Linked DNA regions of Homo sapiens: all the other regions are linked to region 3. The links come from fine-mapping of genetic effects on gene expression. A gene starts in region 3. Each other region holds a variant in brackets. All regions are shown on one strand. Distances are between the middles of the regions.

Region 1 (9,320 bases), 21 kb after region 3:
CATGCTGCTTCAGGTCCTGGGTCAGACAATGATGTGCCTGTCACTCTTTTTTTTTTAAGTCAGGTCTTATTCTGCACCCAGGCTGGAGTGCAGTGGTACAGTCATGGCTCACTGCAGCCTCCAACTCCTGGGCTCAAGCAGTCCTCCCATCTCAGCCTCTCAAGTAGCTGAGACTACAGACATATGCCATCATGCCCAGCTATTTTTTTTTTTTTAAGAGACAGGATCTCGCTTTGTTGCCCAGGCTGGCCTCTAACTCCTGGGCTCAAGTGATCCTCCCACCTTGGCCTCCCAAAGTGCTGCGATTGCAGGCGTGAGCCACCATGCATGGCCCCCCATTGCTCTTGATACCCTTACCCACTTACCACCACCACACTTACTGGTACTGTGAGTTTATTGTTTTACCCCTCCCCTGCTCCCCCCACCACCCCTTCTCGTGCCTGGTGTCTGATTGGTTGACACAGTCAGTACAGGGTGACTGAAGAGTAGTTAGCCCTGAGGTGAGTCTGGCAGAGAGAACACCAGCACAGAGGCTTTGGGGTCGAAAAGAGCCCGCATGTGGCTGGGCACAGTGGCTCACGCCTGTAATCCCAGCACTTTGGGAGGCTGAGGCAGGCAGATCACGAGGTCAGGAGATTGAGACCATCCTGGCTAACATGGTGAAACCCCGTCTCTACTAAAAATACAAAAAATTAGCCGGGCATGATGGCAGGCGCCTGTAGCCTCAGCTGCTTGGGAGGCTGAGGCAGCAGAATGGCGTGAACCCGGGAGGCGGAGTTGCAGTGAGCCGAGATCGCACCACTGCACTCCAGCCTGGGCGACAGAGCCAGACTCCGTCTCAAAAAAAAAAAAAGAGCCCGCATGTTCAGGGACAGAAGGAAGATCAGTGTGACAGGCACCAGGCATCGTGGACAGGGAGTGACTGAGGGAGTCACACAGGGCCTGGAGACCTCTGTGAAGGGCCAGGAGGAGGCGGGAGAAGGCAGTGAAGGTTTTAGATGGGAGTGACATGATCAGATGACTCCTTTAAGCCATGACCCTGGCTACCTTGGGGAGAAGCCAGGCCGGGACGAGGGGGTCAGGTCATGAGGCTACTGGAGTGGTCAGGGCACAGGTGCTGGTGGCTTAGGCTAACAGAGTGGGCCTAGTGGGATTAGAACTTGGCCAGACCTCCCAGAGCAGTAGGGCTTTATTTAGCCCATTAATTTTTCCCTAAGAGAAACACTGCCAGAGGAGATTCTAAGACAGACCATTCTCTGAATGTATTTATTCTTCTTGGGGCTACTGGGCCCAAGAAGTAAAAACTGAGAGGCAATTTGGAGACACCCGATGCAAAAGAGCCCACCACTTGTGGAGCACAATAGAATCTGATCGTCATTTCACAGGCCTTAGAGCTTCACTGCAGAGTTGGAGCGCAGGCACCAGCTCTAACCCAAACTCCTTGCCCTTTTCTTTGCACCCTGCTGCCTTTCACTGACATGGAGAATGAGGGAAAGAAAGGATGGGGTGTGGCTTCCCTGGGATCAGAGGCTTGCTTTTCTTTCTGGCTCCTCCTTGGCTGATGAATCCCATACCTGGGATTGGTCCCAGAATCCAGCTTCCATTTCTCCTGCACAGTGCATTGGCTCCTTCTCTGTTACTGTGGACTTGGTGTTGTCCTTCCGCCTCCAGCCAAGCCAGTTCTGTGAACAGCTTTTGGTGTTGAGGAGGAAGATTCCCAGGCCACCAACAGTAATGTCATCCCTTGGTTTGCCAGGGGAGCTTTTTTTTTTTTTTTTTTTTGAGATGGAGTCTTGCTCTTGTTGCCCAGGCTGGAGTGCAATGGCACAATCTAGGCTCACCGCAACCTCCGCCTCCCGGGTTCAAGCAATTCTCCTGCCTCAGTCTCCCGAGTAGCTGGGATTACAGGCATGCGCCACCATGCCTGGCTAATTTTGTATTTTTAGTAGAAATGGCGTTTCTCCATGTTGGTCAGGCTGGTCTCGAACTCCTGACCTCAGGTGATCCTCCCGCCTTGGCCTCCCAAAGTGCTGGGATTACAGGCATGAGCCACCACACCCGGCCTTTTTTTTTTTGAGATGGAGTCTCACTTTGTTGCCCAAGCTGGAGTCCAGAGTGGCATGATCTCTGCTCACTGCAACCTCCGCTTCCCAGATTCAAGCAATTCTCCTGCCTCAGCCTTCCGAATAGGTGGGATTACAGGCATGCACCACCACGCCCAGCTAATTTTTGTATTTTTAGTAGAGATGGGGTTTCGCCATGTTGGCCAGGCTGGTCTCGAACTCCTGGCCTCAAGTGATCCGCCCACCTTGGCCTTACAGCCACTGCGCCTGGCCCCAGGGGAGCATTTATTCACCACTCCCAGGAGAGCTCTGAACCACTGAAGGGGAGGAAGAAATCACCAGTGTGACTCTCAGCCTCCCTGGGGAGCTGCACCGTTCTTGGCACTGAAACTCCAGCCCCTCTCACTCACAAGTGTGGGGACTGAGGCTCAGAGGAGGGAAGGCACCCGGGGCTCAGCTGTTTCTTGTATGGAGTCCTTACCACCCTGGGCCAGGCTGGAGAGAAGACTTCCTGCAGTCACATGGGTAGTTTTATCACAGAATTCAGAGACCAGGACCCAGGACTTTCCACTTCCAGTCCACAGCCTTTCATTTTAGCCATGGTTCTGGGCCTAGCTGATTCAGATTCAGTGGGCTGGGGTAGATGGAGCCTGGGTGTCTGTACCTTTTGTAAGTTTCGCAGTAAATTCAGATTATAGCCAGGTTTAGCACTTGCTGTGAGGAATGTACTGCCTCTGTGTAAGCGGCAGTGGAATGTGGGAAGCCAGATCGGATTCTGGAGAATGATGACTTGACCAGAGCAGAAAGAGGGTCATGAACACAGGTGATCAAAGGTGGTCGTTTGTTCATGTGGGCCTGACAGGGAGCTGCTGGCAGGTCTAGGTGTGACTTGGAGGCCGCTGGGTACCTAAGCCTCTATTTCCTCCTTGCTGAGCTTTGGGAGCACCGTGGGCTGCAACTTCCTCCCTGGCAGATCCCAGTAGATCTGTGCGCAGCCAAGTGAGTGGGAAGGCACTCATACAGCAGGCCCAGGGCCAGCACCACCTGACCATTCCTGCTTACCTGTCAGCGCTCTGTTCTCAGATGTTTTCATCTGGTACTATCTAGCTCTCCAGTTTTCCCAAGGGGCAAGACTTGTGTTTTCCTCTGGTTACCCAAGAGGTCCCTGGCACCGTTCCTGCAGAGCACAGAGATGCTCAGTGGATGGTCAGTGAAGGAATGAGCTACAGAGGGGCTTGTTGGACAGGAACAGCTGTTATTTGTCAAGGCCCTTTTAAGTTGGGGACCCGGAGCCTCCCTGGGCGTGTGCTCCTTTGTCCGCTTGGCCTTCCTGATGGAGGCCAAGCAGCTGTTGGTCTGTTTCCACAGACACTCGGTCAAGGCACTGAGAAGGGAGGATACTCATTAGGTAACCCGGGAGGCTGGAATTTCCATCTGTGCTCTGGCCATTGTCCACACACCCCCTCAGCCCCCATTCTGCAGGAAGAAAACAGTATGATAATCAAGAAATTATTTCTCTTTGGCTCTGAATCGATTTGCCTACAAACAGATTCATCTTCCTTACTTTGTCTCATTAGTCTAAAGGTAAATTAATTTTTCATTCCTTGAGTACATTAAAGGCAGGGGTCTAGACTAGGGGTTAGGAGCCCTGAACTGCATCCAGCCTTTGATAATAGCTGCTGGTGGGAAGTCCCCTCCCTTCTCTGGTCCTCAGTCTCCACTGCTGTAAAAGAAGAGTTAGAATTTATCCTGAGCGCTGTTACACATCAGAACTGCCTGGGTGGGCAGATCACCTGAGGTCAGGAGTTTGAGCCAGCCTGGCCAACATGGTGAAACCTCGTCTCTACTAAAAATACAAAAAAATCAGCCAGGCATGGTGGTGCATACCTGTAATCCTAGCTACTCGGGAGGCTGAGGCAGGACAATCTCTTGAACCCAGGAGGCAGAGATTGCAGTGGGCCCAGATTGCACCGCTGCACGCCACCCTGGGGGACAGAGAGAGACTCTTGTCTCAAGAAAAGAAAAGAAAAGAAAAAAAGGCCAGGCATGGTGGCTCACGCCTGTAATCCCAGCACTTTGGGAGGCCGAGGTGGGTGGATCACCTGAAGTCAGGAGTTTGAGACCAGCCTGACCAACATGGTGAAACCCCATCTCTACTAAAAATACAAAAAAATTAGCCAGGCATGGTGGTGGGCACCTGTAATCCCAGCTATTCGGGAGTTTGAGGCAGGAGAATGGCGTGAACCCGGGAGGCAGAGCTTGCAGTGAGCCGAGATCACACCACTGCACTCCAGCCTGGGCAACAGAGTGAGACTCTGTCTCAAAAAAAAAAAAAAAAAGCTCTTGAAGCTTGGCGTGGTGGTTTACGCCTGTAATCCCAGTACTTTGGGAGGCTGAGGTGGGTGGATCACCTGAGGTCAGGAGTTCGAGACCAGCCATGGCCAACCTGGCAAAACCCCATGTCTACTAAAAATACAAAAATTAGCTGGGCATGGTGACGGCTGCATGTAATCCCAACTACTTGGGAGTCTGAGGCAGGAGAATCGCTTGAACCTGAGAGGCGGAGGTTGCAGTGAGCTGAGATGCGCCATTGCACTCCAGCCTGGGCAACGACAAGAGTGAAATTCCATCTAAAAAAAAAAAAATTCTTTCTAGATTTTCTATTTCAAAGCTTCAGCTGAGTGGCTGACATTTTGTTTGTTTGTTTTGTTTGTTTGTTTTTACAACTGAACCCTGTCCTTTTTGTGACCTAGAGGGAGATCACCAGCCTCAGAGAGATGGAGGAGAAATTATTATTTTTTTTAATAGAGAGAGAGCCTTGCTGTATTGCCCAGGCTGGCCTCGAACTCCTGGTCTCAAGCAATCCTCCTGCCTCAACCTCCCAAAGCACTGGGATTACAGGCGTGAACACCGTGCGTGGCCTAGAAATGATTGTTAAATAGTTGATTAATGTAGCTAGGTCTCTCCATTTGGATGATGACTCCGTGGTGGATAGTTTCCTCTCTCCACCTCTGGCTTTCCGGGGTGAGAATGAGCAGTGGCAGATTTCAATTTCTAGGTTGGTCCCCTGCTGCCCCAAGCCAGGCACCAACTCAGCCACATCCAAGCAGCTGCCTCCCCTGTCATTTGGTGTGTCCTCACGGGAGGCAAACTCATTTCAGTGTAAGCTCAAGCAAAGTGTAATTAGGACAGTAAATCTGCTGCTTAACGGCAACAAAAAAAGTCCTATGGCAGATTTTACAGTCCTGGAGAAGTGATTTGAGGCTGAAGGAAGGGTGGGAGAGACCTGGCCTTTGATTTAATTGCTTCCAGCCTGGGAACAAAGTCCAAGACATGGTAACCTCATTTACTCCAGAAAATGCACCATGACTCCTTAAAAGTTTATGGTGTGATAGTCTGAGGTTGGAGGAATAGGGACATGATTTCATGAAAGTCTTTTTTTTTTTCCTTTCTATGCCTTGCAGTGGAACTGTAACTCCTACTTTTCACCCTGTATCACTATCCTCACTTCCATTTTTGGGATATTTACCATTTATCAAGCAACATACCATGGACTGCAGATGCATTTTCTTTTTCTTTTTTTTTTTCTCTGAGACGGAGTCTCGCTCTGTCACCCAGGCTGGGGTGCAGGGGCGCAATCTCCGCTCACTGCAACCTCCGCCTCCTGGGTTCAAGCGATTCTCCTGCCTCAGCCTCCCGAGTAGCTGGGACTGCAGGCGCCCGCCACCAGGCCTGGCTAATTTTTTGTATTTTTAGTAGAGACGGGGTTTTACCATGTTAGCCAGGATGGTCTCGATCTCCTCACCTCATGATCTGCCTGCCTCGGCCTCCCAAAGTGCTGGGATTACAGGCGTGAGCCACTACGCCCAGCCAAGGCAGTCTTATGATCCTAAACCTCATTTTATGGATGAGAAAACTGAGGTTCAGGGAGGCAAGCGGCTTGCCCGGGGTTGCAGCACATGTGAGTGGAGGAGCTGGGTGTGAAGAAGCCATGCCCCAACCTTTGTGCCGTGCTGCCGCTGCTTGGTCTGAGGACGCCACAAACCACGACGCCAGCTCAAAGTCACACCACCAGCATCGCCCAGCCTCCTGGCCTTTCCCTCACATTCCTTCTTGGCAAGAGTGGTACTTTTCTAAACCTCGGCCTTAGTGGCTGCCGAGCCACTGCTTGCGGCTCAGTTCCCCATCTGGGCCAAGAGGATTGTGCGTCTCCATCTATATCAGCTACCCAGGCAGTCCTAGTGCTGGCGTTCAAGGGGAAGTGATCCATGGGACCTTCTGTGGGGAGGAGGCCTTGGGGCAAAAGAGGGCCCAGGCACCTGGACTCTATTTGTGGTCTCTTTTGCATCTTCCGTGGATGGCTGCAGGCAGGCCATTTCTTTCCTTTGAGCCTCAGTCTCCTAGACTAGAAAGTAAAGGCCAGGGGGACCAGTGGGCATCTGAAGAGTGCTGTGGGTCTACCACAGAGAGACAGGTGTCTCCTTCCTCTAGGAAGTTGGCCTCCAAGGGGATCCTGCCTCGTCCAGGAAGCATGCTGCCTAACAGCACCTGACCTTGCCCTGCCTGTTCAGCTTTTGATTGCTGAATTTATAGTGTTCGTTTGCTTTTTTTTTTTTTTTTTTTTTTAGAAGGAATCTGGTTCTGTCACCCA[CG/G]GCTGCAGTGCAGTGGTGGGATCTCAGCTTACCGCAACCTCCACCTCCCAGGTTCAAGCGATCCTCCTGCCACAGCCTTCTGAGTAACTGGAATTCTAGGTGCACGCCACCACGCCCAGCTAATTTTTGTATTTTTAGTAGAGATGGGGTTCCACCATGTTGGCCAGGCTGGTCTCAAACTCCTGACCTCAGGTGATCCACCCACCTTGGCCTCCCAAAGTGCTGGGATTACAGGTGTGAGCCACCACTCCTGGCCACATTTGCCTTCTTTGCGAGTGTTTTTAAAATACTGGAGGCCTTTCCTGGAGGGTTTCTCCTCTCCAGATGGCCCCAGAGCACCCCAAGCTCAGGACATGTCCCTCCCCAGCCAAGCTGTCTCCCTTTACTTCCTTTGCCTCCTCTCTCCCAATTATTTTGGCCCAAACTGATCAGTCCCGCTGGCCTCTCCCAAGCAGGTCCTTCTGGCACTCCTCTGGTGGACCGCCCCCATCGGCCACACTTGCCCTGCTCTCCAGTGATTCTGTAGCTCCTGGCTCCGTAGTCTCGCGGACAGCTCTCTTTCCTGGAAGATGTTTCTGGTGGGCCTGACAGGGGGCATTGCCTCAGGCAAGAGCTCAGTGATCCAGGTGTTCCAGCAGCTGGGCTGTGCGGTGATTGACGTGGACGTGATGGCCCGGCACGGTGAGTTGGAGGGGCAGGTTGGGGGGCCGTGCACAGCAGCTCCCCACGCTTCCGGCCTTCTGCCATGCCTCCTTTTTTTATAAGTCTCAGAGGAGGGGAAGGCTCCTGTTGACCCTGGTCTGACTTCTGTCTCTGCCCCGTGCTTGCCTTCTCTGCTCTTCTATTTTCTGTTTTTAGAAACCCCCCAGCTGTACCCCATTACCAGCACAAGGGATCCTGTACACTCTGCTCTTTTCCTTCACTGCTTTCTCTACCCTCATTTTGCTTTTGCTCCACCTGAAAGAAGCACCCGAGTTCCCCCATCATTTTGCCCCTGGTCACTGAGGTCCTCTGACTGGCCCTGAGGCTTCAGGGAGTGACCCAGCTTCTTCCTCCTGCCACAGTCGTGCAGCCAGGATACCCTGCCCACCGGCGCATCGTAGAGGTCTTCGGCACTGAGGTCTTGCTGGAGAACGGCGACATAAATCGCAAGGTCCTGGGGGACCTGATCTTTAACCAGCCTGACCGGCGGCAGCTGCTCAACGCCATCACCCACCCCGAGATTCGCAAGGAGATGATGAAGGAGACGTTCAAGTACTTCCTCCGGGGTAAGTGCCAGGGCCTGGGGCGGGGGGCGGGGCCTCCTTCCAGGGCCAGGGCCCTTCTCCTCTGCAGAAAGTTTGGCCAGGGTAGGGGAGCTGGTTATCCCAGCTGATGAGTTCATACTGCTTACTGGCATCCCCTCCACACAGAGCCCCGTACCAGCCCCAGAGGAAAGAAGCACGTTCCCTCAGCTCTTAAGGAGGCTGACAGTTTAATGAGAAGAGACACATGAGGCTTTCGAGCCATGAGCCCAGGAAGTAAGTTGGTTTTTCTAGTAGGGATGGGAGTAATAAGAGCTGGTGAATAATGGAGCCATAGATCTGAGTTCAAATCCCAACCCTGACTTTCTAGCTGTGTGACTTCATTGAGTGATCTCGCCCTCAGCTCATTTTTTCATTTGTGCAGTGGGGATAATAATCCAACATGAGGCTGGGCACAGTGGCTCATGCCTGTAATCCCAGCACTTTGGGAGGCCGAGGCAGGCAGATCACTTGAGGTCAGGAGTTTGAGACCAGCCTGGCCAACATGGTGAAACCCCGTCCCTACTAAAAATACAAAAATTAGCTGGGCATGGTGGTGTGCACCTGTAATCCCAGCTACTCGGGAGGCTGAGACGGGAGAATCGCTTTAACCTGGGAGGTGGAGGTTGCAGTGAACCGAGATTGCACCCTATACTCAGACTGTCTGGGCAACAGAGCAAGACTCCGTCTCAAAAAAAAGAAAAAATCCAACGTGAGCATGTTAGGAAGACTGAGGGTCCAGGTCAGTGACTGTCAGTTAATCACACATGTAAACTGCAGTCAGGGGCAGGTTTGGTTCTGGCTGAGCCATTTGGGAAAGCAAGTTTGTAGACTGGAAATTGGGAAGGGACCAAGATGGCCAGGGTGGGTAGGGGAAGGGGAGTATTTGAAATCAGAGGCCTGGGGCCAGTTGGCAAGAACCTTCTTCCAAGCTATATGCCATGGTTCAAGCCCTGTTCTTTTTTATTTTATTTTATTTTATTTTATTTTTAGAGATGGGGTCTCACTATGCTGGCCAAAGTGGTCTCAAACTCCTGGCCTCAAGCAATCCTCCCACCTTGTCCTCCCAAAGTGCTGGGATTACAGGCATGAGCCACCACACCTGGCCTAAGCCATGTTCTTCAGGACAGCATTGCACAGGGGTGGCCTGATGCTTACTTTACAGGTTGGGGTCAGTCACCAGAAGTGGGAGGGAGAACAGAGGGCGGTGGCTTGGGATCTGGCAAGAGGCTGGCCTAGGGCTGCTGGAGATTTGCATGCCAGCCTTTGGCACATGTGGCCTCCAGCCTGGGCCTCCGAGTTGAAGGCCTGGTTGCCTGTCA
Region 2 (9,786 bases), 32 kb before region 3:
CAGTGAGCCAAGATTGTGCCATTGCACTCCAGTCTGAGCAACAGAGCAAGACTCCATCTCAAAAAAAAAAAAAAGACTGGGCGCAGTGGCTCATGCCTGTAATCCCAGCACTTTGGGAGGCCGAGATGGGTGGATCATGAGGTCAGGAGTTCGAGACCAGACTGGCCAACACAGTGAAACCCCATCTCTACTAAAAATACAAAAATTATCCATGCATGGTGACAGATGGTTGTAATCTCAGCTACCTGGGAGGCTGAGGCAGGAGAATCACTTGAACCTGGAAGGTGGAGGTTGGGGTAAGCCAAGATCGCGCCACTGCACTCCAGCCTGGGCAACAGAACCAGACTCTGTCTCAAAAAAAAAAAAAAAAGCCAGGCCTAGTGGCTCATTGCCTGTAATCCCAGCACTTTGGGAGGCCAAGATGGGCAGATCACCTGAGGTCAGGAGTTCGAAACCAGCCTGGCCAACATGGTGAAACACCATCTTTTCTAAAAATATAAAAATTAGCTGGGCGTGGTGGCACTCACCTGTAATCCCAGCTACTCGGGAGGCTGAGGCAGGAGAATCGCTTGAACCCAGGAGGCAGAGACTGCAGTGAACTGAGATGGTGTCACTGCACTCCAGCCTGGGCAACAGAGCGAGACTCCATCTCAAAAAAAAAAAAAATTCTGTTGACTTTTTTTTTTTTTTGAGACAAAGAGTCTCGCACTGTCACCTGGGCTGGAGTGCAATGGTGAGATCTCAGTTCACTACAACATCCCCCTCCCAGGTTCACGAGATTCTCCTGCCTCAGCCTCCTGAGTAGCTGGGATACAGGCGTACACCACCACACCTGGCTAATTTTTTGTATTTTTAGTAGAAATGGGGTTTTATTATGTTGGTCAGACTGGTCTCAAACTCCTGACCTCATGATCCGCCTGCCTCAGCCTCCCAAAACGGTGGGATTACAGGTGTGAGCCACCACGCCCGGCGACATTTTCATCATTCTTTATAAGGGAAATAAATCCCTCAGGTCAAAACAAGGGGCTCTGGGTGGCCGGGGTGGAAAGGGGAGGACAGGGCCTCATTTAGCAGCCCCAGCTGCTCCAGTCAGGAGACAGACTAGAAAGAAAATGAGGAAATGAATGAACAAAAAAGAATAAATGAAAAACAGGTATCCACATCGGGGACCTACAGAGGTTAACTTCCAACCTGCCAGAAAAGCTAAGAGCTATTTATGTGGAGTCTTGGCCATGCCCCAGGAAGTTACAGACGGGAGTCTGTTCAGACCTCCTTGGCTCAGCTCTCTAGGGCTCGAGTAAACGTAGTCTAGGTGAGACTGCAGGGCTTACTGTGAAAGTGGCTCCTACCCGCAGGTGTAACCTTCTGAGGGCCCACTCACCACACCACGATCGCCCAGGTCCAAAGCATCCCAGGTGAAGCCCTGGGGCAGGGTGTAGGGCTCCTGGCGGATATTGTCCTTGTCAGGCTCCACGGGGCCATGGGTGTTCACCACTTCGCCTGAAAGAAGAGCACAGCTGTGAGCCTCACCCTTTGCCCCCTCGGGGCAGTAAAGGGCTCAGTTCAAAACTCAACCAGAGCAAATTCCTCCTGTCCCTAGGAGCCCTCTATCTGAAGAACATTCTGTGCTTGGCAACTGCAAACCGTCTTTCCAGCTACCCTTAGCCCCTAACTGAGGGCCAATTCATGGCAAAACCTCAGGACAATCACTGGGATCCAAGGTGGTTCGTGTTTTGGAAATCCATTTAAATCTCCCTTGGGTCACTGAATGACAAACATTTATCTTTAGTAATTTGGCTTCCTGCCTCCTGGTTGGTGTAAAGAGTGCTGTCAGGGCCCTGGCCCAGGCCCATCAGTCTGGATGGGTTTGTAAGGAGTCACAACAAGGCTGCTTTTGTGTCAACAGCAACAACAATGTACTGGGCCCATTTCTGAACCAGATGATGGCTTCTAGGCGCCAGGCTCAATCGTGGCCCTGCCAGCCTTGGCTTTCAGCAGCGTGAGCCAGTTAACTGCTACTGCCAACTCAGGCCCTCAGTGTTTAGAGTCCTGCAAGTGCCTTTGGGCTGAATCACCAAGTCTACATAGTGCTGCCGGGAAGTCACCCTGACACAACATCCCCTCCCTGAGCAGGATAGGCCCCTCCTCTGTGGGAGCATGTGGGGAGTGCTCCAAAGACACAGCCCTCATTCCTATCCAGAGCTCAATCGGACTCATATATGCTGAGAGATTCACCACTGAATTCTGGCCCTTGGGATGATTTCGGTTCTACAATGGGCTCACTCATGTTTACACTGGGAAGAATGCAATGTTTAGTGCATTTTGGAAAATGGAGTCTTCAAAAGGGACCAACCCAGTAACAGTGTTCCTAGCAAAGGGCTCTGTATAGACTAGGCACTCAATTCATGCTTTTACTGACTTTCAGACTCCTGATCCCAAATATTTTTTTTTTCTTTTCTTTTCTTTTTTTTTTTTTTGAGACAGTCTCATTCTGTCGCCCAGGTTGGAGTACAGTGGTGCGATCTTGGCTCACTGCAACCTTCACCTCCCTGGTTCAAGCAATTCTCCTGCCTCAGACTCCCGAGTGGCTGGAATTACAGGTGTCCGCCACCACGCTGGCTAATTTTGGTGTTTTGTTTTTTTTTTTTCAGTAGAGATGGAGTTTCACCATGTTGGCCAGGCTGGTTTCAAACCCCTGGCCTCAAGTGATCCACCCGCCTCGGCCTCCCAAAGTCCAAACATTTCATTCTAACATGTAACAGGAAGCTCTAGACCTTCCCAGAATGATAATCTGTGGGGCAAGTGTGGTGGAAAGGGCTGCATCAGGCTGCAGCACACGACACCACCGCTGGCACTGATCATCTCACCCTCTTCCATCAGACACATTACTGAGCACCAACCGTGCACCAGTGACTCAGTGACCATGCCAGCCCCTAGTGTACAGCAGGAAAAAGGACCAAGTCCCTGTCCTCATGAGACATACCATCTTCTGGGGAAATAGTAAATAAATGAGTCATTATCCACGTGCTGCAGGTCAGGATCTGGAAAGTGCAGGGACACACAACAGGGAAGCAGCCTGCTCTGTTGGTAATCAGGCTTCCCAACAGGTTTGCTTGGGAGAGAGGTCATATTTTTCTTCCCTAGTTAGGAAACTCATGACTGGCGAGATGGGGTCTTGCTCTGTTGCCCAGGCTGGAATGCAGTGGCGTAACCTTGGTTCACTACAGCCTCGACCTCCTAGGCCCAAACGATCCTCCCATCTCAGCCTCTCGAGTGGTTGGGACTATAGGCATGCGCCACTACGCCTGGCTAATTTTATTTTTCATAGAGATGAGGTCTCACTGTTGCCCAGGCTGGTCTCAAACTCCTAGACTCAAGTGATCCTCCTGCCTTGGCCTCCCAAAATGCTGGGATTATAGCATGAGCCACGGCGCCCAGCCAAAACCCACCATTTGATTATTCATAAAGTAGCTCTTGTGAATTTAAGTCAATCCGCTTCCAACTGACAGCTATGTATATTAAAAAAACATTTTTGAGCCTACAAAACTGAGGGCCAGACCCTCTAGTCTTATCTAGGTGCTAATTTCCCAACTTGTATTGAATTTATACCTTTTCCTATACACTTCAGAACCTTCTTTTTTTCCCCCTGAATTATTTCCATGGCCAAGAATACTGATGGTCTTCCCTATTGTACTAAAATAACCTCAAGGCTAAATCTTCTCATTTAGGCTGGCTACTAGGTCCTACACGCAACAGGCACTTCCATTCACTCACTCCTTCACCAAGTGTTCACTGAATCCTAGAATGTGCCAGTTCTGTGGCAGGGGCTGGCGAATGAAACAGACACAGGTCCTCACCATCATGGACACCAAAGAGATGAGCAAGGATGCACATGCCACCCGGCATGGTGAGGGCCAGTAAGAATGAAGTACAGGGTGCTATGGGACGTGTGTGTGTGTGTGTGTGTGTGTGTGTGTGTGTGTGTGTGTGTGTGTGTCAGGAAAGACCTCTCAGAGGAAATATCTAACGACAAGACCTCAAGGATAATTAGGAATCAGCCAGGCTGCAGGTGGACTATGTGGGGCAGGGTGGGTGTGAAAAAGTAGAGCTACAGGAAACACTGAAAAGGGAGCAGCCACTTTTACTAGACTCCCACTGTGGAGTGCCCTCGATGCCAAGAAGCAGCCCAAGGCTCCTGTGCTGTCCTCGGTGTGGTGCCAGCATCATGGCCTCTGCTTGTCCTGCTCTGTGGGGAGCAGCCTGCCTTCTCCCTTACAATGGCCTTTGAGTACCTCCTGCTGAGCAGGGGTGGAAGGCTGCTCTGCAGAGCACAGCAAGAATGCAGCTGATTCTCTCAAGGCCAACATGAACCAATAAATGACTAAGGATGACACTTCGAACTTGCTTTAAAAGAATCTGGAAGTTTAAAGAAAACCCTGAGCTTTCAATGGGTTTCTTTCTGCACACTCTTCCCTCAAAATTCTCTCCATGACATCAAACATCAGAGACCCAAAACTAAGCAATGCGGTGCAACTGTGAAGGACTTCGGAGAAATGAGAATGTCTGAGATGCGGAAAACATTAAACCAAACAAAGGCCAAGGAGAGGAAAAAGAGAGGGGAAGCTTCTCTCTGGGACCCATGGAAACCAGGTGAGTGCACATCCTCCCTTTGATAGTGACTTTTTAAAACAGAGTGGCCACACTGCATTCCACTGACCAAAGACAGAAAAGGATACTGCTTCCGTTGACATGAGTGGGAAAGGGGTGACTTTAAAAAGAAGAACGACATGATCTCGAGTGGGGGATCAAAAGTTCATCTGCGGCTCTTACAGTTGTTACACAGACTAAAACACTTCTGCTAAGAAGGCCTTTCATTTTTATTTATTTATTTTTTAATCTTTGAGACAGGGACTCGCTTTGTCACCCAGGCTAGAGTGCAGTGGCACGATCATGGCTCACTACAGCCTCGACCTCCAGGACTCAAACGATCCTCCCACCTCAGTCTCCTGAGAAACTGGGACCATAGGCATGTGCTACCATGTCTGGCTAATTTTTAAATTTTTTTGTAGAGACGAGGTCTTTCCCTGTTGTCCAGGCTGGTCTTGAGCTGCTGGGCTCAAGCAATCCTCCTGCCTTGGCCTCCCAAAGTGCTGGGATTACAGGCATTGAGCCACTACACCCGGCCTAAGAAGGCCTTTCCATGGTAAACCTAGGATAATTTTAAGCTTCTAAAGAATTGCAGGTCTCAGTCAGGTGCAGTGGCTCACGCCTATAATCCCAGCACTTTGGGAGGCTAAGACAGGAGGACAGCTTGAGCCTAGGAGTTTGAGACCAGCCTGGTCAACATAGTGAAACCATGTCTCCACAAAAAATTTAAAAATTAGCCAGGCATGTG[G/A]CAGGCACCTGTAGTCCCAGCTACTCAGGAGGCTAAGGTGGGAGGATTGCTTGAGCCCAGGAGATCAAGGCTGCAGTGAGCCATGATCATACCACTGCACTCCAGCCTGGGCAGCAGAGCGAGATCCTGTCTCAAGAAAATAAAAGAGAGGGCCGGGTGCGGTAGCTCATGCCTGTAATCCTAGCACTTTGGGAGGCCAAGGCACGTGGATCACGAGGTCAGGAGTTCAAGACCAGCCTGGCCAAGATGGTGAAACCCTGTCTCTACTAAAAATACAAAAATTAGCCGGGCGTGGTGGTGGGCACCTGTAATCCCAACTACTCGGGAGGCTGAGGCAGAGAACTGCTTGAACCTGGGAGGCAGAGGTTGCAGTGAGCCGAGAAAACGCCACTGCACTCCAGCCTGGGCGACAGAGTGAGACTCTGTCTCATAAATAAATAAATAAATCAGAGAGACTTGTAGGTTTCTTTAGTGGAATACCATCTAATTAAAACTCTCCCAAGAAGGTGGAGAGTACTGTAAAAACACAGTGCAGCTGATATGCACGAGATTTATAATCATTAGTCCTCCAATTAAGTGAAAAAAAAATTAGGGCAAGAAGCTGTAGGTACCACCACCCCTGAGAAAACTCAGAACTAGGGTGACGCCTCAGCCATGCAGGCTAACACGCCTGCCAAGGTGGCACTTTTTACAGGCTGACACAAACACAGGAATCTAACTGGGGCTTGACTGACCCTGGACCTCAAAGGCAGACTAGTCAGATGCTCAGGGTGACTGCTCTTCCATGGAGTCCGACACCACACACTGCACAGAAGGCAAAGCCAGAAGAAATAAAACCAGACCTTGTTCCTCCTTCCTCAAAGTGTCAGGGCCCGTATGAGCAACTGTGTGGTTTTCTCTTGAGCTTTCTGAGAACTAAACTGAAGCACTTTCTACATTTACAGGTGAAAGGAAAACAAAGTATGCTGGGCTGAAGAGGAACAGAAGCAAATTAATCCCAAGCTGCCTCTTTTTTTTTTTTTTTAAATTCATTTTTGAGATGCATTCTTGCTCTGCTGCCCAGGCTGGAGTGCAGTGGTGCGATCTCAGCTTACTGCAACCTCTGTCTCCTAGGTTCAAGTGATTCTCCCACCTCAGACTCTCAAGTAGCTGGGATCACAGGCCCATGCCACCAGCCCAGCTAGTTTTTGTATTTTTAGTAGAGACGAGGTTTTACCATGTTGGCCAGGCTGGTCTCGAACTCCTGACCTCAGGTCATCCGCCTGCCTCGACCTCCCAAAGTGCTGGGATTACAGGCGTGAGCCACTGCGCCCAGCCTCAATCTGCCTCTTTCCCAAGTGCCACTATCTGTGAAGAATGTAGCAAGGTTACTCATTTGCAAATTCCTCAGGAAAAATAAAATCAAACCAAAACTCCAAAATGCCATCTGAAAACAGAGCCAAGATACATGGCAGCCACCACACAACACCTCATCAGGGATTTCATTCAGAGGTGAGATGTGTGGCTCTCTGCATCTTTCCTGCTCCTCAGCGAGAAACTGGTCACTGGGACCCTACCCTGTGGCCCAAAGCCTTGCTGGAGGGCTTAGCCAGTGGGCCTGGGACCTGGCCGATGAGGGCAGCCAAACACACACGGTGATGGGGGAATCAGCACCCCTCTTGTCCACCTGGGCAGTGCTCTGCTCTCCCTCACCCGTGGGGATGCACCTCCTCAGCTTGCTTCTATTGTGACCAAGCTTCTAAGAACTGCATCCGCTCTAGAGCAGAGCTTCTCAAACTTTCAAAGTGGACAGAAATCCTCTGGCAGTTCTGATTCTGCAGCTTTGGGGTGGGGCCCGACAAACTGCATTTCTACTAGCAATTAGGCAATGCCCATCCTGCAGGTCTGCAGGCCTCATGGATTAGCTGCTCCCAACCTCTGCAGCAAACAAATCTCCTTGGGCACAGCTGCCTTCCTCACCTCACCAGTCTTTAGCCCTACCCTGTCTGGCCCTGCCCCACCCTCCTCCTCTGCACCGAACATACTAGTGAAGTCTCATTGTGTTTCTGGAGGGGAGCAGTAATGTGGACAAGCTGAAAGTCATTTACATTTGGTGTTGGAATATGTTTTTTTCAACATACTTACTTTCCCAGTCACAAAGAAAACAGGAACTAGGCCACCAATGGGTCCAGAATCATGTTACAACCACTTCAGAAACTTTGTCAGCTGAGTCCTGAAGTCAGCCATCAAGGTTGGCTTGGCTCAGTCTTGGCAGGCACGTCTAACAGGATCCAGTCCCTTCCAGAATCCTTTTAGATATTCTGCCTATTCCACCCCTTTAGCAATTCATTATAGCTTTTTTAAGGGGTGCTAATGAAATCTATATATAGTATTCCTGTTGTTGAACCATCACTGCTAAGCAAAATCTCAAACCACTTTGCATTTAGTAAGCATGCATTGGCTAGGAGACAAAGGGGAAGAGGCTGGGGACTTTGCCCATTCCAGGAATAAACATGTGCCCAGACAAACAAGACAAAGTCTCTATAAACCTAAGTGGAAAAAAGACCTCTGGGCAGACATTCCCACTCTTCATGTGCCAATAGTTTTGTTTTGTTTTTTTTTTGGGTTTTTTGGTTTGTTCGTTTTTTGAGTTGGGGGTCTCACTCCTGTCACATAGGCTGGAGTGCGGTGGCGTGATCTCAGCTCACTGCCGCCTTGACCTCCCAGGTTCAAGTGATCTTCCCACCTCAGCCTCCTGAGTAGCTGGGACTACAGGTGCATGTCACTATGCCTGGCTATTTTTTTTTTTTTTACTTTTTGTGGAAACAAGGTCTATGTTGCCCAGGCTGGTCTCGAACTTTTGGGCTCAAACAATCCTCCCACCTCGGCCTCCCAAAGTGCTGAGATTATAGGTGTGAGCCAGTGCTGTTGGCAAGAATCATTATTTGTTCTCAAGGTGTGCTGCTATAAAATGGTAAGGTCTCTGAATGATAGTCTTTATGCTGCATTTTTAAAAACCACCCTCTGAAAACAACTACCAAGGAACTCCAGGACTCTACTGCCCTCCCTACAGTAATTCAGCATGAAACCCTCATGAAGGCACAGCTGAGGCAGATCCCTCGCCCCTGACCTGGCAAAGAAAGCAAGCATGTACATACCCAGCTTGGGGACGGGCTGCGTATCCCAGAACTGGTAGCTTCGCTTGCTAGCCTCCTCCATGGTTTTGGCAGGTCCCTGACCCACTGAGAACAGCTCAATGGCCTTCTGTATTTCCTGGATCCTCTCTGCTGGCAAAGAGTTCATCTGGACAAGACAAAGTTGGGGAGAAAAAAGGCCCATTATGTTAGTAAGACTTTTGATTAATTATGAGTTCAAGAGTTAAGGGGAGCTGGGTGCAGTGGCTCATGCCTGTAATCCCAACATTTTGGGAGGCCAAGGCGGGCAGATCACTTGAGGTTAGGAGTTCGAGACCCACCTGACCAACATGGTGAAACCCTGTCTCTACTAAAAATACAAAAATTAGCCAGGCGTGGTGGCGGGCACCTGTAATCCTAGCTATTTTGGGAGGCTGAGGCAGGAGAATCACTTGAACCTGGGAGGCAGAGGATGCAGTGAACCGAGATGGCGCCATTGCACTCCAGCCTGGGCGACAAAGCTAGACTCCGTCTCAAAAAAAAAAAAAAAAAGAGTGCTGGGCGCAGTGGCTCATGCCTGTAATCCCAGCACTTTGGGAGGCCGAGGGAGGTGGATTGCCTGAGCTCAGGAGTTCAAGACCAGCCTGGGCAACATGGTGAAACCCTGTCTCTACTAAAATACAAAAAATTAGCCAGGCATGGCGGCGTGTCCCTGTAATCCCAGCTACTCAGGAGGCTGAGACACGAGAATTGCTTGAACCTGGGAGGCAGATGTTGCAGTAAGCTAAGATCACACCACTGCACTCCAGCCTGGGTGACAGAGCAAGAATCCATCTCAAAAAAGAAAAAAAAAAAAAGAGTTAAAGGGTACAATTCAAAGAAGGGGTTTGGTTCCTCTGTCCTAATCCCAGAGGTCATTACAACCAGAGAAAAAGTGGTTGACAATGAGCTATATGATGGGTGGGTGCTGCCCGCAGGGTTTCTCCCCTTATTAGTCTTATGTTGTTTGATGGCAAAAGTAATACATGCTCAATGTAAATTTCAAACAATGCAGAAATGTGTAAGACACATAGAAAGTAAACACCCACAATCCCATCCCCCAAATATAATCTTTGTGATCAATAGTCTTCACTTGGGAAGGTGAGAAGAGGCAAATATAATTCCAGACTTTTTTGCATACAAGTTCCAAATGCACACACACTTTTCAAAAACTAAAATTGGATCATATAATATTATCGTACAAACTGCTCTTTAAAGACTGTCTTAGAGACCTTTCCA
Region 3 (9,786 bases):
GCACACAGTTTTGAAAAGTGATTCACAGATTATAGGGCACAAACCTAAGGACACTGGTCAGGACAACAGTTAAGAAGATAAAAATAAAAGCAACTACAAAAAGAGCAAAGAAAATGCCACACTTTCACTTCTGGAATGACTTTCACATTCACCAACTCTCATCTGTGATTCAGATCTCTACTCAGGAGAGCTTCACTTTCCCTTCTTCCTGTTCCTACTTCCTCTTTCTCAGCTCTTCCATTTTTAGGAATATCAAACTTCAAAAGAAGACTTTTATTACATTAGATCTGTTGTGAGTTACAGCAACAGAACAGTCTTATAAAAACTAAATTTGGCAAGCTTCCTATTCCTCTACTTTCTTCCTGTGATTTTTTTTTTTTTTTTTTTTTTTTGAGTCGGAGTCTCGCTCTGTCGCCCAGGCTGGAGTGCAGTGGCGTGATCTCAGCTCACTGCAAGCTCTGCCTCCTGGGTTCACGCCATTCTCCTGCCTTAGCCTCCCGAGTAGTTGGGACTACAGGCGCCCGCCACCACGCCCGGCTAAATTTTTTGTATTTTTAGTAGAGATGGGATTTCACAGTGTTAGCCAGGATGGTCTCGATCTCCTGACCTCGTGATCTGCCTCCCAAAGTACTGGGATTACAGGCATGAGCCACCATGCCCGGCCCTTCCTGTGATTTTTAATGCCGGCTGAAGAACATAAAAGCTAGATCTTTTAACCTAAGATTTACCACAAGCAGATTATAAACCACTTAAATACAGTCATGCTTCACTGAACGTCAGGCATATGTGCTGGGAAATGCATGGTTAGGTGATTTTTGCCTTGCCAACATTATAGGGTGTACTTACACAAATCTAGATGGTATAGCCTACTAAATGCCTAGGCTATATGGTGTACATTACAGTAACATGCTATACAGGTTTGTAGCCTAGGAGCAATAGGCTGCTGCATGTTACTGAGTACTGCAGGCAACTATAATACAATGGTAAGTATTTGTGTATCTAAGCATACCTAAACATAGAAAGGATACAATAAAAATATGTACTATAATCTTGTGGGACCATCTCTTCTACGCAGTCCTTGGTCTTTATACCTTTATATCTGCACTGCCACCAATACTGCGAATAACAAGCTGGCTACGAAAATCAGACTACCTCAGACTCAGCAAGTTATACACCCAAAAATCTCTCACGACTTTCAGTTTAAAAATATATCTACAAATATAGACAGGAAGATGGGGAGAGACAGCGTGAGTGCCAGTGCCAGGCACTAACCATGTGAAGAAAGATGAATAAGCTGTGGCTTACAGAAGTAAAAACTAATTTGGGAAAAGAATTCAACATTCAAATGCCTGGTGTGTTTCTTCATCCCTAGGAACAAATAGTAACTAATGGCAAGACCCTAAAGTACAGGATAGGCAGTATGGAGCCCGAGGATTCCAAATACTCTCCAAGAAACAACATCGCTCATTTCTTGAAGCCTGGGGCTGCTCTGCAAAGGTAACAAGGCAAAGATGTTCGAAGACTTAATTATATTAATATATCGTTCAGGATACTTATGGATTATTTGGAGCAATGGAAACTATGTAAATCAAAGCATTACCATACCGTTAATTACATAGGTTTATAAGGTGAGTTTATATTTTGGGATTCTCTGGTAGTGATATTTTACAATATAATTATACATACAGTTTGTATAGTCTGATGAGTTTCCTCACTGAGGGTGAACTGCTGCGAAATGTTTTATGATTCGTTTATTGCTAGTCACGTTGTTCAAACAACACGTCTATAAGTAACGTTCCCTTTGAACTGTACTGTTACTAGACTGTCCTGTGTTGTACCATCGAAAACCATCGTCCAACATGCTCTTTTCCCAGGAATGGCCTGAAGCACACGAGTGGAACACTGCATAGAACTTTTATATAATAAAAGTACTGAACGTCTCCGGCCCTTAATATCCAGAGCACCCACCCTTGGTAAATGACAAAGGCAATAACCAATCGCCAGGCAGAATCCTAGTGACTTAGCCAATAAGAACATGAGGGTGGGGCTAGACTAAGCTCCCGGTGACTTCCCCGCACCCCAGAGACCCAGGTTGTGGGAGGCTGGACGGGAATTGGACTCCGAGGATTTCGTTACCCCCGGTTGTAGCTGTTGTCCTCCTCATTCTCGCAATCGCTGCAGTGCTCATGGCCGTTCCCGTTCCCTTCCATCATCTGCGGCAGCGGAGGTGCCGGCGGCTTCACTGCTGTCTCACTCTCGTCCGCCATCTTGAGTTGCGAGAGCAGGGCTCCGCGCCCCACTACATGGGGGGTTCCTATTGGACAAGGGGAATTTGCGCTGCATTCTGGGTTTTGTAGTTTTTCTGGCGAAGCGAGCTGCCACTAGGAGCGACTCTTTCCCAGGAAACTGACTACAATACCCAGGAATCACGAGGGACGGCTCCGGTCGGATTAAGAGGCGGGGCCACTGATACCCGGAAGCCTAGGCATTCGGCCACGCTTTGAGGAAAGAAGGGGCGCAAGGTTGGTGGGACCGACCCTTGGGAACCGGGCGGCCGCCTGGCATGATGGGAGTTGTAGTTCGATGCTGGTTTAGGGTTTCAGGCGTGGAGGTTCCAAAATCCGAGGTTTGATTTCAGCCTGCCCTTGCCAGTGCCTGGGCCGCTGGGAGCCGTTATTGGCTGCCGTTAAGGACCGTTACGTTTCCCGGGTAAGTGAAAGGGCCTGAGGCCCGCGGGTGCTACCTGCCTGGAGCCGGAATGCCCCAGGCCTTCTTAGAGTGGGCTTTTCCGCAAGAAGCCTAGTTGACTCCTGGCCGCCTTCCTCACTCGGGAGTCTGGGCAACCTGCGGTCATTGGCAGTTCAAGGTCTCATGAGAGGCAGTGGATTTTTTTGTGCGAAGCACTGACCCTAAGCCAGGAGACCACACTGCTAGGGAGGCAGGGCTCGCCGCCTCATCTTGGCCTCCAGGTACTTATCTTCGCCAAGCTCTTTCGCGCACACGTGGTCCCTTTAATTCCCCACAAGAATTTTCCACAACGACCCTTTTTTTCTTTTCTTTTCTTTCTTTCTTTCTTTTTTCTTTTTTAAATACGGCCGCCTTCTGTCGCCCAGGCTGGAGCGCAATGGCTCAAGATCACAGCTCACTGCAATCAAGGTATCCTCCCACCTCAGCCTCCCAAGTACCTAGGACTATAGGCATGAGCCACCACACCCGGATAATTTATATATTTTTTGTAGAGACGAGGGTCTCGCCTTGTTGCCCAGGCTGGTCTCGAACTCCTGGCCTCTAAGGATCTTCCTACCCCAACCCCGCAAAGTGCTGGGATTACAGACGTGAGCCACGGCACCCAGCCCACATCAACTCTTTCTTTAATAAGTGCCAGACTCTGTAGTAAGGCATTTCGTACATTATCTCATTTAATCCTCTCAACAAGTCTACAATATAGGTCCTATTATTATTATTCAACCTTTGTTTTGTTTTGTTTTGTTTTGAGACGGAGTCTCTCTCTGACTCCCAGGCTGGAGTGCAGTGGTGCGATCTCGGCTCACTGCAACCTTCGCCTCCTGGGTTCAAGCGATTCTCTTGCCTCGGCCTCCTGAGTAGCTGGGATTAAAGGCGCACGCCACCACACCTGGCTAATTTTTGTATTTTTAGTAGAGACGGGGTTTCACCATGTTGGTCAGGCTGGTCTCGAACTCCTGACCTCGTGATCTGCCCATTTCGGCCTCCCAAAGTGCTGGGATTAGAGGTGTGAGCCACCGTACCTGGCCATATTGACCTTTTTGACAGATGAAAAAATGTGGCCCTGAGAGGTTGGTAAATTGCACAGTCACATAGCTGGTTAAGTGGCAAATCGGTATACAAATCCAGATCTGTGTGCCCCAGGCCCTCTGAATTCTTTGCCACCATAAAAGTCCCATTTTCTGATACACTATTCACTCAAGGAAATCAGTTACTAAAAGGTAACTGTGACTCCAGTGCGTATTCTATATCAGGGGAAAAAAGGTAACTGCCACATTTTAATCTGTTTTTAACCTTGATTGAATGTTTCAGTCCCTGAGTCTCACTCTTTTGATTGAGTAATCTCGCCTAAGTGCCCAAAGACATGGTTCCCATTCTTGGAAATTTCCTATTCGGGTTGAGTGTGGTGGGTGATGAGAGGACTAATTCTTACCATCAGAGTGCTCCATGGCCAAAAAGGGAAATGATCTTTGCCTTTGGGAAAGATCTCAACATGGGAAGAATGGCAGGGCGGGAAGAAACAGTTCCCATCTGACTCAGGGAAAGAAAACACAAATAAAACACAGAACTAAATATAGTCAACTCTTTCTTTCTTTTTTTTTTCTGAGACGGAGTCTCGCTCTCTTGCTCTGTCGCCCAGGCTGGATTGCAGTGGCGCGATTTTGGCTCACTGCAAGCTCTGCCTCCCGGGTTCACGCCATTCTCCTACCTCAGCCTCCCAAGTAGCTGGGACTACAGGTGCCCGCCACCTCACCCGGCTAATTTTTTGTATTTTTAGTAGAGACGGGGTTTCACCGTGTTAGCCAGGGTGGGCTCGATCTCCTGACCTCGTGATCTGCCCGCCTCGGCCTCCCAAAGTGCTGGGATTACAGGCGTGAGCCACCGCGCCCGGCCAACTCAACTCTGTTTTTATATCAATGGCATAAGCATAAGTAATTATGATCCAAAGCAGCAGATAATCCTCAGTCATTTATATTTGACTTTGGAAGGCAGTCAAAGATGCCCACTCAGTCTGAGAGCTGTCACCACACTCAACTCTCCGGGGTCTAAGACTGCTGTTCAACGCGATTGCCCTATTTGCAGCTGCAGGGAAGGGGGGGGTCAGAGGTAAGAAGAAGAATAATAAAGCCAGGCCAGGCGCTGGGGCTTATGCCAGTAATCCCAGCACTTTGGGAAGCCGAGGTGGGTGGATCACCTGAGGTCAGGAGTTCGAGACCAGCCTGGCCAACGTGGCGAAACCCCGTCTCTACTGAAAATACAAAAAAATTAGCTGGGCTTAGTGGTGGGCGCCTATAATCCCAGCTACTTGGGAGGCTGAGACGCGAGAATCTTTTGAACCTGGGAGGCGGAGGTTGCAGTAAGCCAAGATTCTGCCACTGCACTCCAGCCTGGGTGACAAAGTGGGACTCTGTCTCAAAAAAAATAAAAAGTAGGCTGGGCGTGGTGGCTCATGCCTGTAATCCCAGCACTTTGGGATTACAATAATAAAATAAAAGATAAAAAGATATTTTGTGTGTTATTTTTATTTATTATTATTTTTGAGACTGTCTCGCTCTGTCGCCTACGCTGGAGTGCAATGGCGCAATCTCGGCTTGCTGCAACCTCTGCCTCCTGGATTCAAGTGATCCTGCCACCTCAGCCTCCCCGGTAGCTGGGACTACAGGTGCGCACCCCCATGCCTGGCTAATTTTTGTACTTACAGTAGAGATGGGGTTTCACCACGTTGGCCAGGCTGGTCTTAAACTCCTGACCTCAGGTAATCCACCTGCCTTGGCCTCCCAAAGTGCTGGAATTACAGGTGTGAGCCACCACGCCCAGGCTTTTTTTTTTTTTTTTTTTTTTTTGAGACGGAATCTCACTGTCACCCAAGTTGGAGTGCAGTGGCACAATCTCGACTCATTGCAACCTCTGCCTTCCAGGTTTAAGCGATTCTCCTGCCTCAGCCTCCCAAGTAGCTGGGATTACAGGTGCCTGCCACCACGCCCAGCTAATTTTTGTACTTTTAGTAGAGACAGGGTTTCACCACGTTGGCCAGGCTGGTCTCGAACTCCTGACCTCAGGTGATCCGCCCACCTCGCTCTCCCAAAGTGCTGAGATTACAGGTGTGAGACACTGCACCTGGCCTGAATTACTGTTTTTTTTTTTTTTTTGAGATGGAGTCGCACTCTGTTGCCCAGGCTGGAGTGCAGTGGCACTATCTCGGCTCACTGCAACCTCTGCCTCCTGGATTCCAGCAGTTCTCCTGCCTCAACCTCCCGAGTAGCTGGGATTACAGGCACACACCGCCATGCCCAGCTAATTTTTTGTATTTTAGTAGAGACGGGGTTTCACCATGTTGCCCAGGCTGGTCTCCAACTCCTGAGCTCAGGCAATCCGCCTGCCTCGGCCTCCCAAAGTGCTGGGATTACAGGCATGAGCCACTGCGCCCAGCCGAGAGCTTTCCACTTTGAAACAATTTTGGTTTGTGAAAAGCTGGCCCGGTTCTGCCTTATGGAGTTATGCAGAAATATAGCTGGGTGAGGTGGCTCATGCCTGTAATCCCAACACTTTGGGAGGCTGAGATGGGTGGATCACTTGAGCCCAGGAGTGTGAGACCTGCCTGGGCAACATAGAGGACCCTGTCTCTAAAAAAAATACAAAAATTAGCGTGGCATTGTGGCATGCACCTATGGTTCTAGCTACTTGGGAGGCTGAGGTGGGAGGATCGCTGGAACCCAGGATCATGCCACTGCACTCCAGCCCGGACAACATGGCAAGGCCCCGTCTCTATATAAATAGGAAAAAAGGGCCAGGCGCAGTGGCTCACGCCTGTAATCCCAGTACTTTGGGAGGCCAAGGCGGGCAGATCATGAGGTCAGGGGATCGAGACCATCCTGGCTAACATGGTGAAACCCTGTCTCTACTGAAAATACAAAAAATTAGCCAGACGTGGTGGCGGGCGTCTGTAGTCCCAGCTACTTGGTAGGCTGAGGCAGGAGAACGGTGTAAACCAGGGAGGCGGAGCTTGCAGTGAGCGGAGATCACGCCACCGCACTCCAGCCTGGGTGACAGAGCGAGGCTCTGTCTCAAAGGAAAAAGGGCCAGGCACGGTGGCTCATGCCTATAATCCCAGCACTTTGGGAGGCCAAGGCAGGCGGATCACCTGAGGTCAGGAGTTTGAGACCAGCCTGGCCAACGTGGTGAAACCCCGTCTCTACTAAAAATACAAAATTTAGCTGGGCACAGTGGTGGACGCCTGTAATCCCAGCTACTCGGGAGGCTGAGGCAGGGAGAATTGCTTGAACCCGGGAAGTGGAGGTTGCAGTGAGCCGAGATCGCACCATTGCACTCCAACCTGGGCGACAGAGCAAGACTCTGTCTTGGGAAAAAAAAAATATATATAAAAAAGAGTGCAGGCAGAGTGTGACTCCCTGGGTTCTAAATCCTGGCTCTGCCTCTGACTTAATGAATGACCTTAGGCAAGTCACTTAACCTCTGAGCTTTGATGTCATTATCTGTAAAATAAGACTTACATAGAGAGCCCTAAAAGTGTCTAGGACAGAATTAATACCCACTTAATTAGTATTTCCCTTCCCAGGAAGTCAGCATTACTGGTATGATAACCAAAGAAAAGTTTTCTTCATGATGTCCATCACAGATCAAGGCCTTTGCTGTACTTCCAGCATGTCAGAGATAACCTTCTTTTTTTTTTTTTTTTGAGACGGAGCTTTGCTCTTTTTGCCTAGGCTGGAGTGCAATGGTGCAATCTCTCCTCACTGCAACCTCTGCCTCCTGAGTTCAAGCGATTCTCCTGCCTCAGCCTCCTGAGTAGCTGGGATTACAGGTGCGAGCCACCATGCCTGGCTAATTTTTTGTATTTTTAGTAGAGAAGGGGTTTCACCATGTTGGCCAGGCTAGTCTCAAACTCCTGACCTCAGGTGATCCCCTGCCTTGGCCTCCCAAAGTGCTGGGAGTACAGGTGTGAGCCACTGTGCCCGGCCACATATAACCTTTCTTCTGGTGGACCTACGAAGCCATGAGATAGATTGTGATTCATTTATTCCAACCTCGGGAACACTGATGACTTGTCAGCCTCTATGGCAGGAACTGGAGAGTCAGGGGTAGAACAGTTCTAGCACAGTGCCTAAGAAAGTGGGGAGCACAGGCTGTCCAGAGGCAGGAGATCCTGGGGGGACATGGTGGCTTAGCTGAATGTTCATCAGGACAGTAAACAAACTGGGGTGGACCTTCTAGGTAGAAAGTCCAGGTGCCTGAGACTTGGGTGCTTTTGAGGTATGGCAATGAGAATGATATGACTTAGGACTGGAGCTTAGAAAGTGAGGAGTGTGTGCCTGTGGTTCCAGCTATTCAGTGGGAGGCTGAGATGGGAGGATCACTTGAGCCTGGGAGGCAGAGGTCACAGTGAGCCAAGATCGTGCCACTGCACTAACCTGGGTAACAGAGTGAGACCCTGTCTCAAAAATAAATAAATAAATAAATAAATAAATAAACGTACAGAAAATAAATTTAAAACCAGGAGCCAAAGGAGTCATCTCTAATGGACTCAGGGTTGTTCATCAAACAAAATGAGAAGCAGAACTGTATTCCAGGCATCATGCTAAATGCTAAGGACACAGAGGTGACTGAGATGCAGGCCACTCTCAGGATAAAATGAGATTGTGTAAGTAGCTACAGCCAGCTCAAAGTTTCTTATTGCCATCCTGAATCATGAAAGACATATATTTGAGCTGAAAAAGCCCTTGATGGCATCACATGGAAACTCCAAAGCCCAAGTTTCATTATGGAGGAGGTGCCTGGGTTGAAGGCCCTGTAGCAGCCCTTCACCCTTTCCTATGGGATCTTCCTGGGGCAGAGGTGCAGCTGCTTTTGGCAAATCGGACCACAAGGATACCTCCTTGGAAGACAAGGCTCTCACTTGTACATGAATAGTTATAATACTGTAAGGCAGTATCTGAGAAAAGTAGGGTCATCTGGACGGTTTCCTAACACTGTGTCCCAGGAAGATCCAGATAATTTGGGGGGACAGGCCAGGCCTGTTCCTATCCCTGTCTTGGCCAGCCATGATTACTGGTGGGAGTCTGGGTATCCCTTGGATGTGTCAGGAGTAGGGAAAAGGGTGAGAACCACAGGATTAGGTTAGCTATACATTGTTTGATCAAGGAAGGGAATTGAGCCATTAAATCTGGCTCTATAAAATAGAATTAGATTTGTTCTGTATGGCCCCACGGTTTAAAACTAGGAGAGATACTGCCTAAGAAAGAACTTTCTAACTGCCAAGACTGGACTTGAAAAAATAACAACTGTCAGCCAGGTGTGGTGGCTCACACCTGTAATCCCAGCACTTTGGGAGGCTGAGGCAGGCAGATCGCCTGAGGTTGGGAGTTCGAGACCAGCATGGCCAGCATGGTGAAACCCCATCTCTACTAAAAATGTAAAAATTAGCCTGGCATGGTGGCAGGCACCTGTAATCCCAGCTACTAGGGAAGCTGAGGCAGGAGAATCACTTGAACCCGGGAGGCGGAGGTTGCAGTGAGCTGAGATCACGCCATTGTACTCCAGCCTAGGCAACAGAGCCAGACTCTGTCTCAAAAAAAAAAATAAATAAAACTGTCTTGAGTGGCAGTGAGTTCCCCAACATGGGACATGTACATGTATACATGGCAGAGATAATGTGGAAGAGATTCAAATACTGGCAGGGTGTTTGTACCAAATGGCCCTTTTGGACACAAGATGGAATCCTTTTTATTGGGTGATGGCAGTAGGTCTCCTTGACTGTTGAAGTCAGGAAGAAAGCTTTCAGGGACTCAGGTGATCTGAGAAAGATGTTAAATTACTTAATTCCTCAATATACTGAATCCCTACTGTGCAGGGCACTGGGTATTGTAGTAGTAGATAGGCAAGATTCCTACCTTAAAGGAAGTAGAGAATAGAGATACAGTTTAAGGAAAGGGAAGGGAGACAGGGTAGGTGTTAATTAAAAACTTCCTGCTGGTGAGGCACCGTGGCTCATGCCTATAATCCCAGCACTTTGGGAGGCCGAGG

Direction of the effects. Alleles are on the strand shown, and positions count from the first base shown. SD is a standard deviation of normalised expression in the study named.
As copies of CG replace G in region 1, the expression in naive CD8 T cells of the gene that starts at base 2,280 in region 3 goes up (small effect, 0.37 SD a copy in Schmiedel 2018).
For the expression in adrenal gland of the gene that starts at base 2,280 in region 3, allele G in region 2 goes with a higher level than allele A (small effect, 0.28 SD a copy in GTEx).

Evidence for each region. PIP is the estimated chance that this variant, and not a neighbour inherited with it, causes the effect.
Region 1: its variant is the best candidate, but not a certain one, in a credible set for the expression of NMT1 in naive CD8 T cells (Schmiedel 2018, PIP 0.77).
Region 2: its variant is the best candidate, but not a certain one, in a credible set for the expression of NMT1 in adrenal gland (GTEx, PIP 0.59).

What each region holds. Positions count from the first base shown.
Region 1 is chr17:45,032,850-45,042,169 of GRCh38, reverse strand. It overlaps DCAKD (dephospho-CoA kinase domain containing), which reads left to right. Exons shown (of 5, transcript NM_001288655.2): 2 at 7,171-7,396; 3 at 7,780-7,983. The coding sequence starts at 7,285. Among named protein-coding and RNA genes, the nearest start is that of DCAKD, 14 kb to the left of the region's middle. RefSeq lists enhancers at 211-845, 846-1,480, 1,481-2,115, 5,625-6,125, 6,126-6,626. The variant CG/G (reference allele first, on the strand shown) is at 6,715.
Region 2 is chr17:45,085,399-45,095,184 of GRCh38, reverse strand. NMT1 (N-myristoyltransferase 1) reads right to left here. Exons shown (of 12, transcript NM_021079.5): 3 at 8,533-8,677; 4 at 1,382-1,500. Among named protein-coding and RNA genes, the nearest start is that of MIR6784, 24 kb to the left of the region's middle. RefSeq lists an enhancer at 3,960-4,461. The variant G/A (reference allele first, on the strand shown) is at 5,396.
Region 3 is chr17:45,053,811-45,063,596 of GRCh38, reverse strand. NMT1 (N-myristoyltransferase 1) reads right to left here and starts at 2,280. Exons shown (of 12, transcript NM_021079.5): 1 at 2,137-2,280. The coding sequence starts at 2,267. It also overlaps a transcript of DCAKD not described here. RefSeq lists enhancers at 1,840-1,919, 1,862-2,156, 2,010-2,369, 1,517-2,508, 2,470-2,649 and 1 more.